Regions from separate parts of the Homo sapiens genome. Here region 2 is linked to region 1. Evidence: fine-mapped expression QTL. Tissue or cell type: minor salivary gland. Region 1 holds a variant in brackets; the other region holds the start of a gene. All regions are shown on one strand. Distances are between the middles of the regions.

Region 1 (8,105 bases):
TGCTGGGATTAAAATAAATTGTTTTTAATTAGCTGGGGGTGGTGTTGCACGCCTGTAGTCCCAGCTACTCAAGAGGCTGAGGTGGGAGGATCACTTGAACCCAGGAGGTCAAGGCTATAGTGAGCCATGATCATACTATTGCACTTCAGCATGGGCGACAGTGTGAGACCCTGTCACGAAAAAAAAAAAAGTTTCTTTTTCTTTAAAATTACTAGACTATTCTTAGAGCAGTTTTAGGTTTACAGAAAAACTGAGCACAAAGCACAGAGTTCCCATATACTCCCTGTCTCCACACCCAGAATGTCCCTTATTATAAATGTCTTGTCTTTGGTGTGGTACTCTTCAGTCTCTCTTCATCTGTAGCAGTGCCCATGCCTTTTTTTTTTTTTTTTAATGTCATTTATTTGTTGAAGAAACTGGGTCATTTGTTGTGTAGAATGTTCCACATTCTGGGTTTGTCCTTGTGCTAGTGTTTAACACACCCCTCCTCTCCTATATTTCTTGTGTGTTGGTGGTTAGATTTAGAAACCTGATTAGATTCATGTCCCACATTTTTGGCAAGAAAAATTCCCAGGTGGTTCTGTGAACTTCTTCTTGCGTCACATCAGGCACTTGGTGTCTGGTGCCCCAGTTGTAGTGATGTGAAGATTGATTAGCCATCTGCAGCACTCCTAACAACCTCTCTTGATCGCATCCTGGGATCACTGCCCTGGAAACATCCTCTCCCTTTTCTTAGCCCCTGCTTTCTTCCCTTGCCTGCCTGGCTTCTATGCTCCCAAGCCCATCTTCTAGGCACCCAGATTGAGGCTCCATGGCAAGCAGCAGGGACAGGGGCAGCAGGTAGCCTGACCCCAGGAAAGAGATGTGGGTGACCTTGCATGTCTCCAGGTTACATCCACTACCAGCCTGCCCAGGACCGGCTGCAACCCCACCTCCTGGAGATGCTGATTCAGCTGCCGGCCAACTCAGTCACCAAGGTTTCCATCCAGTTTGAGCGGGCGCTGCTGAAGTGGACCGAGTACACGCCAGATCCTAACCATGGCTTCTATGTCAGGTGGGCTCCACCCCCACAGGCCACCTCTCATCCCCCTGACCTACCCTTTCTGCTGCTTACCCCTTGATAGGGCAGCCAGATGGGAACACGGGCCATCTCTCTGCTTCTCTGTAGCCCATCTGTCCTCAGCGCCCTTGTGCCCAGCATGGTAGCAGCCAAGCCAGTGGACTGGGAAGAGAGTCCCCTCTTCAACAGCCTGTAAGTGTGACCACACTCACTGATAACACATCCTCAGCTGCCTGCTGGGCCTTAACACAGGTGACCAGGCTCCTGCAGGGGAGTTCAGGGTAGATGTTACATCTTCCAAAGAGATGTGTAGATTTAATTCAATCCTAATAAAAATCCTGGCAGTCTGTGGAATTTGTGAAGACTTTATAAAATGATTTTAAAGTGCTTCTAGAAGAATACTTTTACTTACAGCCTACATTTACTTCTTGATGCTCTTAAATATTTAATCAAGCACTTATCAAATGCCAAGTGCTTCTGAGAGCACTGAGTGTGCAAGATTAAACAAAACAGACTTGGCCCTGGCCTCCCTTTGCTTACAGTCTAGAAGGAAGATTCTGGTCTAGAGAGTAATGGGGTTAGAGGTTGGGTAGGAATTGATTTACTGGGTTATCTAGGAAGGCTTCATTTAGGAGGTGGCATTTAGGCTGAAACCAGGCTAAGAAAGAAGCAACCAAGCAAAGGCGGGGCCCCTTTCCTCCACCTCAACACCAGGCGTCTCTCTTTCTTTCCTTTCTCTCTCTTTCTTTCTTTCTCTTTCTTTCTTTCTTTCTTTCTTTCTTTCTTTCTTTCTTTCTTTCTTTCTTTCTTTCTTTCTTTCTCTTTCTTTCTTTCTTATTTATTTTTTATTTTACTTTAAGTTCTGGGATACATGTGCAGAACATACAGGTTTGTTACATAGGTATATATGTGCCACGGTGGTTTGCCGTACCCATCAACCCATCATCTAGGTTTTAAGCCCCGCATGCATTAGGTATTTGTCCTAATGCTCTCCCTCCCCTTGCCCCCCGCCCGCCGCTCCCCTTTATCAGGTTTAGAGATTGAGCTATGCCTTCTGTTGAAAGGTTTTGAGCCTAAGAGAACATTGGAAACACTGTGTTGCATTGCCCAATACTGCCGGAATGAGGATGGGGTGAGATGGGGAGGAGCAGCCAGTCCTGTCTCACCGCTCTTCCCCTGACCCCAGGTTCCCAGTCTCTGATGGCTCTAACTACTTTGTGCGGCTCTACACGGAGCCGCTGCTGGTGAACCTGCCGACACCGGACTTCAGCATGCCCTACAACGTGATCTGCCTCACGTGCACTGTGGTGGCCGTGTGCTATGGCTCCTTCTACAATCTCCTCACCCGAACCTTCCACATCGAGGAGCCCCGCACAGGTGGCCTGGCCAAGCGGCTGGCCAACCTTATCCGGCGCGCCCGAGGTGTCCCCCCACTCTGATTCTTGCCCTTTCCAGCAGCTGCAGCTGCCGTTTCTCTCTGGGGAGGGGAGCCCAAGGGCTGTTTCTGCCACTTGCTCTCCTCAGAGTTGGCTTTTGAACCAAAGTGCCCTGGACCAGGTCAGGGCCTACAGCTGTGTTGTCCAGTACAGGAGCCACGAGCCAAATGTGGCATTTGAATTTGAATTAACTTAGAAATTCATTTCCTCACCTGTAGTGGCCACCTCTATATTGAGGTGCTCAATAAGCAAAAGTGGTCGGTGGCTGCTGTATTGGACAGCACAGAAAAAGATTTCCATCACCACAGAAAGGTCGGCTGGCAGCACTGGCCAAGGTGATGGGGTGTGCTACACAGTGTATGTCACTGTGTAGTGGATGGAGTTTACTGTTTGTGGAATAAAAACGGCTGTTTCCGTGGTTCTTTGCCTCTTGTCCTTGAGTCCTGGGAAGAGCTGGGGACTGGGGATTGTTTGCTGAGTGCCTGAACAGGACCTCCTACCCTATGCCTGCAACCCCCTCCACAAAAAACAAAAAACCCTACCTCCTCCCACCTGGCCGGAAATTTCTTCTCCTGATCTGCTCCCCCTGTCCTCCCCATCCCCATCTGATTGTGATTCCCAGAACTCCCCGGGTTGTTTGGGAGTGTTTCTGAAAGCATAATCCATGGCCATGGAAATGAATCATCCTACTTCTTGGGGGCATTGAGAGTCAGTCCACATCAGCAAGGGTAGAGTGGAGAGGTGGGAGGGCTCTGGGTGGTGGGTCTCTAACTGTAGTGTGCATCAGAGTCACTGGGGGCACTTGTGAAAATAATGTATGTTCCTGGGGTCCAGATCCTACTAATTCAGTTGGTCTGGGTGTGGCCCAGACTTTGACTTTTTAGCAGGCTTCTCAGGAGCTCCTGCTGTGCTCTGTCCTCAGACCACCCCCAGGCTTTGAAGCCAGGCTCATTGGATTGAAGCCCGCCCCGCCCACCTCCCTTGCTGGTTACATAACCCTGGATTTCTGTAAAACAAGCCTTTAGGCGGTTGCCTCCCACTGCCCTCATCTTCTGTCTTTTCCTCTGGCACACTTGGCATCAACTGTGTGTTATTTGCAGTTCCCCCCACCTCCTACCCCACTCAGTTCTCCCATCATAGTGGTTTGGCCTAGAATGCCCTATTCCACCAACCATGCACACCTCTCAACTGCCTGGTTCCCTCATAAAACCAGATGAGGCTGGCCGGGCACGGTGTCTCATGCCTGTAATCCCAGCACTTTGGGAAGCCAAGGTGGGCAGATCACAAGGTCAAGAGATCGAGACCATCCTGGCCAACATGGTGAAACCCCGTCTCTACTAAAAATACAAAAAAAAATTAGCTGGGCATAGTGGCGCGCGCCTGTAGTCCCAGCTACTCGGTAGGCTGAGGCAGGAGAATCGCTTGAACCTGGGAGGCAGAGGTTGCAGTGAGCCAAGATTGCGCCACTGTACTCCAGCCTGGTGACAGAGTGAGACTCTGTCTCAAACACACACACACACACACACACCCCAGATGAGAAGTTGCTGCCTCCGGGAAGTTTCCCTTGACGTGTCCGTGCCCCACGCCTTTGCTTCCAGATTGCCTTGGACTTAACACGTGTTCCTTATCAGCTGGCTGCTGTCCTTTGACTTCCACCAGATGGTGTGCTTCCTGGAGGCACAGGTTCTGTCTTTCATTAAGACCTGACCCATCTCAGGACATGTAAGTGCTCAATCAGCAAACGCTAAATGTATTAACTGGGTATGGGCTATTCTGGCTTGAGATCTGGGATCCAAGATAGGGATGGGCAAGGGGCACTCTGGAAGCTCCACATGTGTGAGTGCAGCAGTCTTAACACAGTGGTACAGGTGTCTCTGTAGCCAGCATAGATGGGCTGTGTAGGTTCCTTGAAGGGTTTTAGGAGCCCTCAGCACATGCGGGTGGTATGTGTGCATATGTAGGAAGGAAAGGCGGTGAGCTAGTCTAGACCATGGGCAAAGGCAATTTGTTCAAGGTGCTTTTACTTGAGTTTACTTCAAAAGCAGTAAAGGAGCAGACTGTAAATGAGACAGGAACGCAGGTGAGTGGATACACAAAGCTAAGTGGTCTGTGTAGTGTGCCTAGTGTGGGATGGAGCATGCATAGCATGGGGTGTCTGCCAAGTCAGAAGAGCACAGAGCTGTGGCCTGGCTCTCTTTTATACCCGCAGCCCTGTCAGTACCTAGAAACGACCTCCACTACCATGCCACATGTAACCTACGCTCTGGCAACACCCACATATTTCTAGATCAGACCTCCTCCCTGGATCTTGGATTCATTTACCCAACTGCCTACTTGCTTTCTCCATTTGGATGTCTAAAGACATCTCAAATTGAATATCTCCAAAACCGAGCTTCTGATGTGCTCCACCCCACCCCAAACA[G/T]GCCCAACCATAGTCACCTCATCTCTGTAAAAGGTAATTCGTGTCTTTCCAGGCACTCAGGCCAAATACCTTTGAGTCATCCTTGTCTCTCTCTCATCCTGTTTGCACCCTACCTTCAAAATAAATCCAGAATCCCACCCCTTTTCACCACCTCCACTATTATCAGTGAGGTTTTCCCTGGCCATACCCTATTTCAAATTGCTATCCTAGCACGCTACATTCACCTGGGGAACTGAAAAAATCCTGATGCCCAGGCTTTACCCAAACCAGTTAAATCAGAATTTAATGTGGGACTCACAGAGTCTCCAAGTGACACCAATGTGTAGCCAAGCTTAAGAACTTGGTCTTATTTTTAAAGTAGTATGAAAACTTACTGTCTCTCCTAAGCATTCTAACAATGGATACTTTTCAGAATAAGATTGTGTAAAACAGAGAACTCACTTTTAACTTTATAACAATTTATGTATTGTTTGTCTTTTTAAAACAAAAGTATATGTTGAGTTTATAATAAAAGTAAAAATTTGGGCCGGGCGTCGTGGCTCACACCACTCCCAGCACTTTGGGAAGCCGAGGTGGGTGGATCATTTGAGGTCAGGAGTTCGAGACCAGCCTAGCCAACATGGTGAAACCCCGCTTCTACTAAAAATACAAAAATTAGCCAGGCGTGGTGGCGGGTGCCTATAGTCCCAGCTACTCGGGAGGCTGAGGCAGGAGAATCACTTGAACCCAGGAAGTGGAGGTTGCAGTGAGCCGAGATCAGGCCACTGCACTCCAGCCTGGGCGACAGAGTGAGACTCCATCTTGAATAATAATAATAATAAAATAATAATTTGATGAAGACTTAATTAAATCAAATAGGCATCTGGGAGGTCTGGCCCCAGGTCTTCCCCCAGACTGAAGGGTGACCACAGGTGAGCCCTTTCAATATCTGGGCCTTGGACTCCCGCTGAGGTGAAAGTGACCGGGTAGCCTGTTGGAGCCAGCCCTGTCCCATAGGCTATGGGTCTCAGGGTCCTCTTTCCCAATAGCACTTCAGCTCACTTGAGGTCTTTTCTGAGCTGGTCATGCCCACCAGGCAGATGGCAAGGCAGGGCACAGAAGCTGCTGAGCTCCATGGTGCCAAGGGCTGAGCTCCATGAGCCAGGGCTGGGAGGCTGGAACTTATACCTGCAGAAAAAGAAGAGTCCCTGTTTCCACAGGACAAAGGAAATATCTTGTTTTTGATTTCTTGGAAGAGGAAGCACTCTGGGCAAGAGGTATGAGCCGGGATGAAGTGGACTCCTTGTCTGGAGGTGGTGCTACACACCTTGGAGGGGCTCCTGGGAGCTACTGAGAATGTCCCCTAAGTCAGTATTCCTGCCTCAGCTGAAATGCCAGTCTTCAGCCTCATCTACTGCACACTTGAGTCCATGAGATTTTAGAGTGGTAAGTGACCTTTGGGGTCTCAGTTTTCCTATCTGTAAAGGGAGTGGGCTGGACAATGAACAGCTGTTCTCCATTCTTTTGTTATTGGTTCCCATCCAGAGCCTCCCAGCTAGTTGTCTCAACATCCCAGGGGAGAAAGCATAGCTCTTTGTCCATTGGTTTATTTATTCAATTTAGGAATAATGAGTGTATTGTTTTATATGAATAACCATACTTATTTAAAAGATCAAACTAAACTAAATAGTACAAACAAGCGAAATCTCTCCCCAAAGTCTACTATGGTGCTGTGCAACAGAAATATAATACAAGCCACAAATCGAATTTTCAATTTCCTAGTAGCTTTTTTAAAAAGTAAAAAGAGGGGCCAGGCACAGTGGCTCAGCCTGTAATCCCAGCACTTTGGGAGGCTGAGGTGGGCAGGATCACCTGAGCTCGGGAAGTTGAGGCTAATAGTGGGCTGAGATTGTGCCACTGCACTCCAGCCTGGGTGACAGGGAAGGAGACCCTGTCTCAAAAAAAAAAAAAAAAGAAAGGAAAAACAGGTAAAATTAATTTGATGATAGTTTATTTGAGTACAGTATATATATCATTTCAATATATAATTAATATGAAATAAAAACTAATGCAATATTTTACTTTTCTTTATATTAAGTCTTTGAAATCTGATGTGTACTTTAAACATTTATAGCATATAACAACTAATATTAGCCATAACTCATGTGCTCAATAGTTGCATGTGGTCAGTGGCTACCATATTGGACATTGATGCTCTACCATATAAAGCAACTATCAGTAACTTCAGGATAACCTCATCAACATTTTGTTAGATTGATTAACAAAAATAATTCTACAAAAATGAAGAGTTTATGGATATTGTTTTCCCTGAATTTTTGCATATTTTCTTAATACCTGAAGGACAATTTTATGGGGTAATATTTTAAAAAATAATTTGACTTTTTTTTTCCTCTTTCTAGGCTATTGAGATTTATTTATTTATTTATTTATTTAAGATGGAGTCTCTGTCGCCCAGGCTGGAGTGCAGTGGTGCAATCTTGGCTCACTGCAACCTCTGCCTCCTGGGTTCAAGTGATTCTCTCACCTCAGCCTCCCGAGTAGCTGGGATGACAGGCACGCACCACCATGCCTGGCTAATTTTTGTATTTTTAGTAGAGGCGGGGTTTCACCACGTTAACCAGGCTGGTCTCAAACTCCTGACCTCAAGTGATTTACCCACCTCAGCCAACCAAAGTGCTGACATTATAGGTGTGAGCCACCGCACCTGGCCCAGGCTATTGGTACTTACTATCCCCAACTTTTATTCTATGCTAGTAATTTGATTTGTAGCTCTGACTTGTTTCTTCCTTGAGATTTTCAATTTATTTGCAGTTTTTTTAGTGGTGTTACCTAGATCTTCAATTTATTTCTTTAACACTCATTTTTAAGGGTCTTTTAAATTTTTATTTATTTTAAAATATTTATTTATTTATTTATTTATTTTTAGAAATGAAATCTTGTTATGTTGTCCAGGGTGGTCTTCAACACCTAGCCTCAAGCAATCCTCCCACCTTGGCCTCCCAAAGCACTGGGATTACAGGTGTGAACACTGAACCACTGAACCCAGCCTAATGTCTTATTTTATTAAAGTTTTTGTTTTTTAAGCTGAAAGCCCTCCTATAAATTTTTCCTTTTATCAGATTTTCTGCTGAATTCAGTTATCTGTGTCTGTTTCTTTTCTCCAGCGTCCTTTCCTTTTTAATTTTCT
Region 2 (8,105 bases), 360 kb after region 1:
TTGCAACTGATTATGGGAACTGGGAATTACCCAGTGGTTTTCTTTTTTCTTTTTTTTTTTTTTTTTTTTTTTTTTGAGACAGAGTCTCGCTCTGTCACCCAGGCTGGAGTGCAGTGGCATAATCTCGGCCCACTGCAAGCTCCGCCTTCTGGGTTCACGCCATTCTCCTGCTTCAGCCTCCTAAGTAGCTGGGACTACAGGCACCCGCCACCACGCCCGGCTACTTTTTTTGTATTTTTAGTAGAGACGGAGTTTCGCCGTGTTAGCCAGGATGGTCTCGATCTCCTGACCTCGTGATCCGCCCGCCTTGGCCTCCCAAAGTGCTGGGATTCCAGGCATGAGCCACCACACCTGGCTACTCAACCGTTTTCAAAGCAGTCTGCAAATGAGGGTAAGTTGAGGCTGCCCTTCTGGCACCCTCCCTCTGCCTGCCCAGGCTACATACCACAAATGATTATGGCTTGTGCACCCTTTGTATATCTTTTTTTTTTAAGGTCTTAGAATATAGCAGCAAAGTAAAACCAACAAGCTGATATGTGCATATTTGAGAAATAAACAAGCAGACCAAACAGACCATGAGGTGTGGGGACAGCGTTTCTTACCCAGCTTCTGTTTAGAGATTGGGACTACACAGCTCTTGTTGCAGCCAAGCGTGCAGCATTTCTTTACACCTGGACATGTCTCATCAGTGATGCACCTTTTCAAACAGGATTGTTTCCGAATAACCCTAGGGCAATCTCTTTTCCTCCCTGTAGCAAAAAGGGAGACAGCAAAGAAAAGAGAAAATAGGCCGAGCGCCATGGCTCACACCTGTAATCCCAGCACTTTGGGAGGCCAAGGCGGGTGGATCACCTGAGGTAGGGAGTTCGAGAACAGCCTGGCCAACATGGAGAAACCCCATCTCTACTAAAAATACAAAATTAGTCGGGGGTGGTGGCACATGCCTGTAAATCCCAGCTACTTGGGAGGCTGAGGCAGGAGAATCACTTGAACCCGGGAGGCAGAGGTTGCGGTGAGCCGAGATCACGCCACTGCATTCTAGTCTGAGCAACAAGAGCGAAACTCCGTCTCAAAAAAAAAAGAGAGAGAGAGAGAGAAAATAGTGCCTGGCAACACCCACGGGCACAGCAGAAGGGAAAAACAGAAAAAGGAAGTCCTGAGATTTATTTAAGCCTCTCAACCCTGGTGCTAAGACAAAGAGACAATAATAACAACAATAGTAATAGCAAATATTTACTGTAACATTTACTGACGTTTACCTTGTGCCATGAACATCTTATTTGATCCTCACAATTATCCCCATTTTATAGATGAGGAAACTGAGGCTAAAAGCTTAAGATTTATAAAGAGCTAAGGCTTAAGGCTTAAAAAGGTCTGCTTGGCTCTAGGGTCTACTCTCTTAATCATTATCTTACACAGCCTTCCCTTTACAACTCTTCCCTCCAGCCTTCACAGGAACTTTGAGTCCAAAGTAAAAGACATAGATAATCAATGGTGCGCTCTTTCCTGATGGAAGGCAAACAACTGGGGGCACTGAATAATTAAAGGAGGAGGGACCCTAAAAGAGTAAAGAAGAAGTACTCTAGGCAAGGGAGACTTCCAGAGGCAACCTAGAAGGTGGGAAGCTCTCTACTTCCATCTATCCCAGAGGCAATGTCAGAGAGTATGCCCAGATTTTGCCCCTCATGCCAACATACCCTTAGGAATGTCTCGGCAGATCCGACCACAGCCTGTGGTGCAGCACTTCTGTTCAGCCGGACACAATTCATCACCCTGGCACAGCTCTTTGCATGGGTTCTTATGGGGAGGGCATTCTCCCTCTTTTGCTGCAAAAGATACTATTTGAGTTTGGGGTAACTAGCCAGGCCTCAGAAATGGGGAATGGACCTTCAGCCCCTCCAGGCATCTCTATCCAAAATATTTCTGCACCACTGCACTCTAGCCTGGGTGACAGAATGAGACCCTGTCTCTTAAAAAAAAAAAAAAATTCTGGCTGGGCACGATAGCTCATGCCTGTAATCCCAGCACTTTGGGAGGCCGAGGCGGGCGGATCATGAGGTCAGGAGATCGAGATCATCCTGGCTAACACAGTGAAACCCCATCTCTACTAAAAATACAAAAAATTAGCTGGGCGTGGCGGCGGGCACCTGTAGTCCCAGCTACTCGGGAGGCTGAGGCAGGAGAATGGCGTGAACCTGGGAGGTGGAGTTTGCAGTGAGCTGAGATCACGCCACTGCACTCCAGCCTGGGTGACAGAGTGAGACTCCATCTCAAAAAAAAAAAAAAAATTCTGCAACCACCTTCCCCTCCTCATACACAAATACTAACATATATCCACCACTGCTAAAGGAGCAGCCATCCTGCAGATAACGAGAGAGAAAGGGTGGGATGATCCTGTTCTCATTTAATGAGTTCTAGGGAAAAGCTAGAACCTCTAGTAAGCCCAACTGGAAGTCCTATCTCCTTGTCCAGAGAGGGTAAAGAAAGCCAGGAAGAATGACCCAGGCCATCCTGAGAATCTATTCATCCAGTCCTGTCCTATAGAGATGATCATCTCCACTTACAAGCAACCTTGCTCTGGGAGAAGGCAGGGGATGAGTTCTCCTCTCCTCTAGTCACTTTCTGTTACTGTTGGCCAGGGATCCCAAATGATAGCTCACCATGTTCTCCTGCAGTTATCCAGGATTCCAGAGACCCAAGAGCAAGAAGTGCCTTCAGAAGAAAGAGGCAGCTTAACATCATGATGATGCTGAGAGTTGGGACAAGAGCTCAGTTCAGGCTAGAGGTGTACACCTTGCCCAGAGTATCAGCTGAGGTATGAGCAGGACTAGGGATGGCCCCAAACCCAGTCCCAAAACCTTCCCTTTCACAATACTCCCCAAGAATATCTTCTCCTGACAAGAAGAAGAGGGATTGGCTGCTGGAGTGTGGGAAAATTCCTGGCACTACCAAAGGGGACCTGTGATGGGAGGATCAAATTCTGTAAGCAATATACACAATATTCCTGGATGATGAGAAACCTAGTGGGTGGCTGGAAAAATGGAGGGGTGGCCATTGGAAAAAGAATCAAAGAGAGCCCTAAAGGGCATTGGAAGGACATGGCTTTAGCCCAAATAACAGAGGGAGGGATTCACGACACTACTTAATGGCCAAAGCTAATAACATAACCAAGCATAATAAAATTGTGGCTCCTGTTCATCCTAGCAACCAAGAAAATACAGAATGGAACAGACCACTCAGAAACTATCAAATAGGCCAAGGCGGGCAGATCACCTGAGGTCAGGAGTTTGAGACCAGCCTGGCCAACATGGCGAAACCCTGTCTCTACTAAAAATACAAAAATCAGCTGGGCATGCTGGTGCATGCCTGTAATCCCAGCTACGTGGGAGGCTGAGGCAGGAGAATAGCTTGAACCCAGGAGGCAGAGGTTGCAGTGAGTGGAGATCATGCCACTGCACTCCAGCTTGGGTAACAGAGTGAGACTCTGTCTCAAAAAAAAAAAAAAGAGAGAAAAGAAACTATCAAAAACCTACAGAAAAGCAGTAGTTGAGTTTGTTAAGAACTAATGAAAAGCACCAAACACCTACATCTTTGTCCCTCTAACCCACACAGGCCATTCTTGGACTGTATGAAGTCTAGCTGGCAGAACCCAAGAGAAGTTGCTATGTATGACTCAAATAGTCTGCCCACATATACCTCCTTTATTTCTTTTTTCTCCATTTCTTTTTTTCTTTATCTGTCCTGGTCATGCCTTTGGTTAGCTGTGATACCTAATGGTGTCCACTGGCACTGCTTAGTCCTATGGGCAGGTACAAGGTAAAACCTCCTTAATAGGATCAAAAAGTTTGGAGCCAGGAAGTCGCCCTTATGGTTAGAAGGCTGATGTTGGCTCATGGAGATAATTAACATTTGATGATGACCTCATATGTGCCTAATATGCTTTTTTTTTTTTTTTTTTTTTTTTTTTTGAGACAGAGTCTCCCTCTGTCCCCCAGGCTGGAATGCAGTGGCGCGATCTCGGCATAATTAACATTTGATGATGACCTAACATGTGCCTAATGTGCTTTTTTTTTTTTTTTTTTTGAGACAGTCTCCCTCTGTCGCCCAGGCTGGAGTGCAGTGGCGTGATCTCGGCTCACTGCAACCTCCGCCTCCTGGGTTCAAGAGACTCTCCTGCCTCAGCCTCCCGAGTAGCTGGGATTACAGGTGCCCACCACCACGCCCGGCTAATTTTTATATTTTTAGTAGAGACGGGGTTTCGCCATGTTGGCCAGGCTGGTCTCGAACTCCTGATGGCAAGTGATCCTCCCGCCTCGGCCTCCCAAAGTGCTGGGATTACAGGCGTGAGCCACCGCCCCTGGCCGAGCATATTAAAATCTAGTTTTCAAAAACTGAACTGCAGGCGCCGCTGTACCAAACGCTTCCCTCTGCTCCCCAACCCCAGCCTACAGAAAACTGGTCCCTTCCTCCTACCCCGCAGTCATCCCCAGGCCTTGGCCCAGCGGGAAACATCCCTTGACTGAACCGCCACTGAACACCCACACTGCACAATCGAGGCGCAGCCCTCCCGAGAGGAAGCCCCAACGACCTCCACCTACAAGGCCTCTAAGTGTAACTGTCCTGGGCGAGGCGCGGCGGTTCGGTTCCCATGGTAACCCCGCAGCTCCAGCGTCGCGCTTCCGGGCGGACGAGCAGCGCGCTCCAGTGACGTCACGGCGCCACTTTCCGGCCGGTGACAGAGTCCAGCGGAGTTGTGGGGGCCGGGGGCGCCATGGGAGCCACTGGCGACGCCGAGCAGCCGCGGGGACCTAGCGGGGCCGAGAGGGGCGGCTTGGAGCTGGGGGATGCGGGCGCAGCGGGGCAGCTGGTTCTTACGGTGAGGGCGCCCCCGGTGAGGTCTGGGCTCAGGCCGGGCACGGCCTCGGGGCTCCTGGGACCCTGGCCCGCGGGCGAGAGAACGCGGAGGCTGGAGCTGCAGAGGGGGTTGGCGTTTTCGCAGCCCGACGACCTGGATTTAAATTCTGGTGCCGCCCTCCTAGCTAGGTGACGTGGGCCATCTCTGTCAACCCCCTGAGTCCCAGGATCCTCTTCTATAAAATGGAAATGATTAGTACCTGTCTCATAAAACTTGTTGTGGGATGGGAAGATAAAGGCGGGTACAACGCCCCGGACATCACCTGACACAGAGTTGACCCTCGGTAAATACTGCTTCCCTTCCTCCTGCCGTGCCAGAAGGCAGGGTCGGGACTTTTAAGGCAGGAAACTTCCTCAGTTCCTCTTTTGTGGAGGAGGCCTTACAACTATCGTCCCACCCCAAGGCGGGAGAGATGGTGACGGATCTGAGAAGCAGGGATGTCCAGGTTTAACTTCATACCCACCCTCCACCTCCACCCCACCCCAGTGTCACAGGCCGCAGTGACATTTGTTCCGTTGGTCCCCACAGAACCCTTGGAACATAATGATAAAGCACCGGCAGGTGCAGCGGAGGGGCCGCCGCTCACAGATGACAACAAGGTAAGGCTGGCCCTGCATGGGGCTTATATCCCAGCCACTGGCTTGCATGGCAGATTTGGGATCCCCAGTGCACAAGGCTATGGAGATCTACAGCCGGTAGAAAGAGCACAGGACTGAGGAAGAGGAGACTCCGATTCTGTAACTCTGTGTGATCTTGAACTAGTCAAGTCACTTCCTTCTCTGAACTCACGTACAAAATGGGGAAGGGCACAGGAGATGGGTTGTGGAATAAACAATACCTAAGATCCCTCACATTCACTGGCTCTGTGGTTGAGGGCTCTAAAGAGGTCAGTTAGCATGGAGTTTAAGAGAACAGGCTCTGGAGTCAGACAACTGTGTTCTCATCAACAGACTCTGATGAGCCCGTTTTCTCAACTATAAAGAGGGATTAATAGTATGCATGTCAGGGAAGGGAGAGAGCACAAGGTGGGCCTTTGGGATGCTGATAGTGGTGAAATGGATGTTCACTATAATTACTCATTAAAGTGTATAGACTTTTCTGTATAAGTATTATATTTCATAAAAACACTTTGGGCCGGGCGCGGTGGCTCACGCCTGTAATCCCAGCACTTTGGGAGGCTGAGGTGGGTGGATCACCTGAGGTCGGGACTTCCAGAACAGCCTGACCAACATGGAGAAACCCCGTCTCTACTAAAAATAACAAAAAATTGGCCGGGCGCGGTGGCTCACGCCTGTAATCCCAGCACTTTGGGAGTCTGAGGCGGGCAGATCACCTGAGGTTGGGAGTTCGAGACCAGCCTGACCAAAATGGAGAAACCCGGTCTCTACTAAAAATACAAAAATTAGCCGGGCGTGGTGGTGCACACCTGTAATCCCAGCTACTAAGGAGGCTGAGGCAGGAGAATTGCTTGAACCCAGGAGGCAGAGGTTGCAGTGAGCCAAAACCACGCCACTGCACTCCAGCCTGGGCAACAGAGTGAGACTCCGTCTCAAAAAAAAAAACTTTGAAAATAATATGCACTTCATAGAGTTATTATGAGAAAGAAATAAAGTCATGCCTCTGTGATTTGCACAAAATCTGAGCATGTAGCTAGTTTTCAATAAAAGCTGTCTAGTATTGTTAAGGAATTCTATGTCCATAATTAACTGGGGAGGCTGGGAAAGAATATGTTTGGGACATGCCCCCTCACCCTGTCTCCCTCCTGAATGCAGTTTCACAGATCCTGCCATCTCCATGGATCTCCTCCGAGCTGTCCTGCAGCCCAGCATCAACGAGGAGATCCAGACTGTCTTCAACAAGTACATGAAGGTGAGAGGGACACAGGATAAAAAATAACAGGAGAAAGACTCATGAGGAGCCCAGTCCTTGCCTGCATCACCAGTCTGTCTCTTTCCTACATACAGATATCTAAAGTTTTCCTTTCTTGTTGTTTTTGTTTTGTTTTGTTTTGTGTTTTTGAGACAGATTCTCACTCTGTCACCCAGGCTGGAGTGCAGTGGCACAATATCGATTCACCGCAACCTCCACTTCCCAGGTTCCAGCGATTCTCATGCCTCAGCCTCCCTAGTGGCTGGGATTACAGGTGCCCACCACCTTGCAGGGCTAATTTTTGTATTTTTAGTAGAGACGGGGTTTCACTGTTGGCCAGGCTGGTCTCGAACTCCTGACCTCAAATGATTTGCCTGCCTTGGCCTCCCAAAGTGCTGGGATTATAGGTGTGAGCCAGGGCACCTGGTCAGTTTTCAAATTTTTAATCCCCCAAGAATTTTATTCCCTCCTTGAGGGTAATTCAGATACCTTTTTTTTTTAAAATCTGCCCTTGTCACGCACGTGGTTTTTTTTGCTGACCTCTTATAAGGATGAAGTGACTTAAATGTACTGTGCTGAGCACTGTGCTCCAGACATAACAAGTGTCCAATAAGTATTCTTATTAGTTGTTTAATAATATAACCATTATTGGGGCCATGCACAGTGGCTCACACCTGCAACCCCAGCACTTTGGGAGGCCGAGGCAGGATCACTTGAGGCCAGGAGTTTGAGAACAGCCTGGGCAACACAGTGGGACCTCATCTCTACTAAAAAAAAAAAAAAATTTTTTTTTTTTTTTTTGAGACAGAGTCTCACTCTGTCGCCAGGCTGGAGTGCAGTGGCACGGTCTTGGCTCACTGCAACCTCCGCCTCCTGGGTTCAAGCAGTTCTCTGCCCCAGCCTCCCAAGTAGCTGGGATTACAGGCATCCGCCACCACGCCCAGCTAATTTTTTGTATTTTTAGTAGAGACGGGGTTTCACCGTGTTAGCCAGGATGGTCTCGATCTCCTGACCTCGTGATCCGCCCACCTCGGCCTCGCAAAGTGCTGGGATTACAGGTGTGAGCCACCGCGCCCGTCCTGATTTTTTGCACTATTTACACCTCAATCTGTTGGGCACCCCCACGATTATATCCGTAAGAGGGGGAATAAAGGGAGGAGGTCAAGCCTGAAATGTGAATCTAAATCTGGCTGATCCCAAAGCCCTGCTCATAATCACTTTTCCCTTCTGTATGAAGCTAGGATAAAGACTTATTTTATATTCAGTTTCCTTCAGGTTGATGCACATTAACAGGACTCTGACCTTGTCCTCTGTTGTGCTC

Evidence for each region. PIP is the estimated chance that this variant, and not a neighbour inherited with it, causes the effect.
Region 2: it holds the start of WFDC3, and the variant in region 1 is fine-mapped to the expression of WFDC3 in minor salivary gland (GTEx, PIP above 0.99).

The regions. Positions count from the first base shown.
Region 1 is chr20:45,423,328-45,431,432 of GRCh38, forward strand. It overlaps PIGT (phosphatidylinositol glycan anchor biosynthesis class T), which reads left to right. Exons shown (of 12, transcript NM_015937.6): 10 at 889-1,054; 11 at 1,169-1,252; 12 at 2,247-2,914. The coding sequence ends at 2,499. It overlaps MIR6812 (microRNA 6812), which reads left to right and starts at 2,183; the gene lies at 2,183-2,246. LOC105372631 (a long non-coding RNA gene) reads left to right here and starts at 4,095. Exons shown (of 4, transcript NR_159957.1): 1 at 4,095-4,218; 2 at 6,118-6,343. The variant G/T (reference allele first, on the strand shown) is at 4,919.
Region 2 is chr20:45,787,234-45,795,338 of GRCh38, forward strand. It overlaps WFDC3 (WAP four-disulfide core domain 3), which reads right to left and starts at 4,650. Exons shown (of 7, transcript NM_080614.2): 1 at 4,599-4,650; 2 at 2,661-2,749; 3 at 1,698-1,826; 4 at 603-749. The coding sequence starts at 2,742. It overlaps DNTTIP1 (deoxynucleotidyltransferase terminal interacting protein 1), which reads left to right and starts at 4,721. Exons shown (of 13, transcript NM_052951.3): 1 at 4,721-4,876; 2 at 5,444-5,514; 3 at 6,688-6,784. The coding sequence starts at 4,772. RefSeq lists silencers at 4,804-5,073, 5,284-5,423.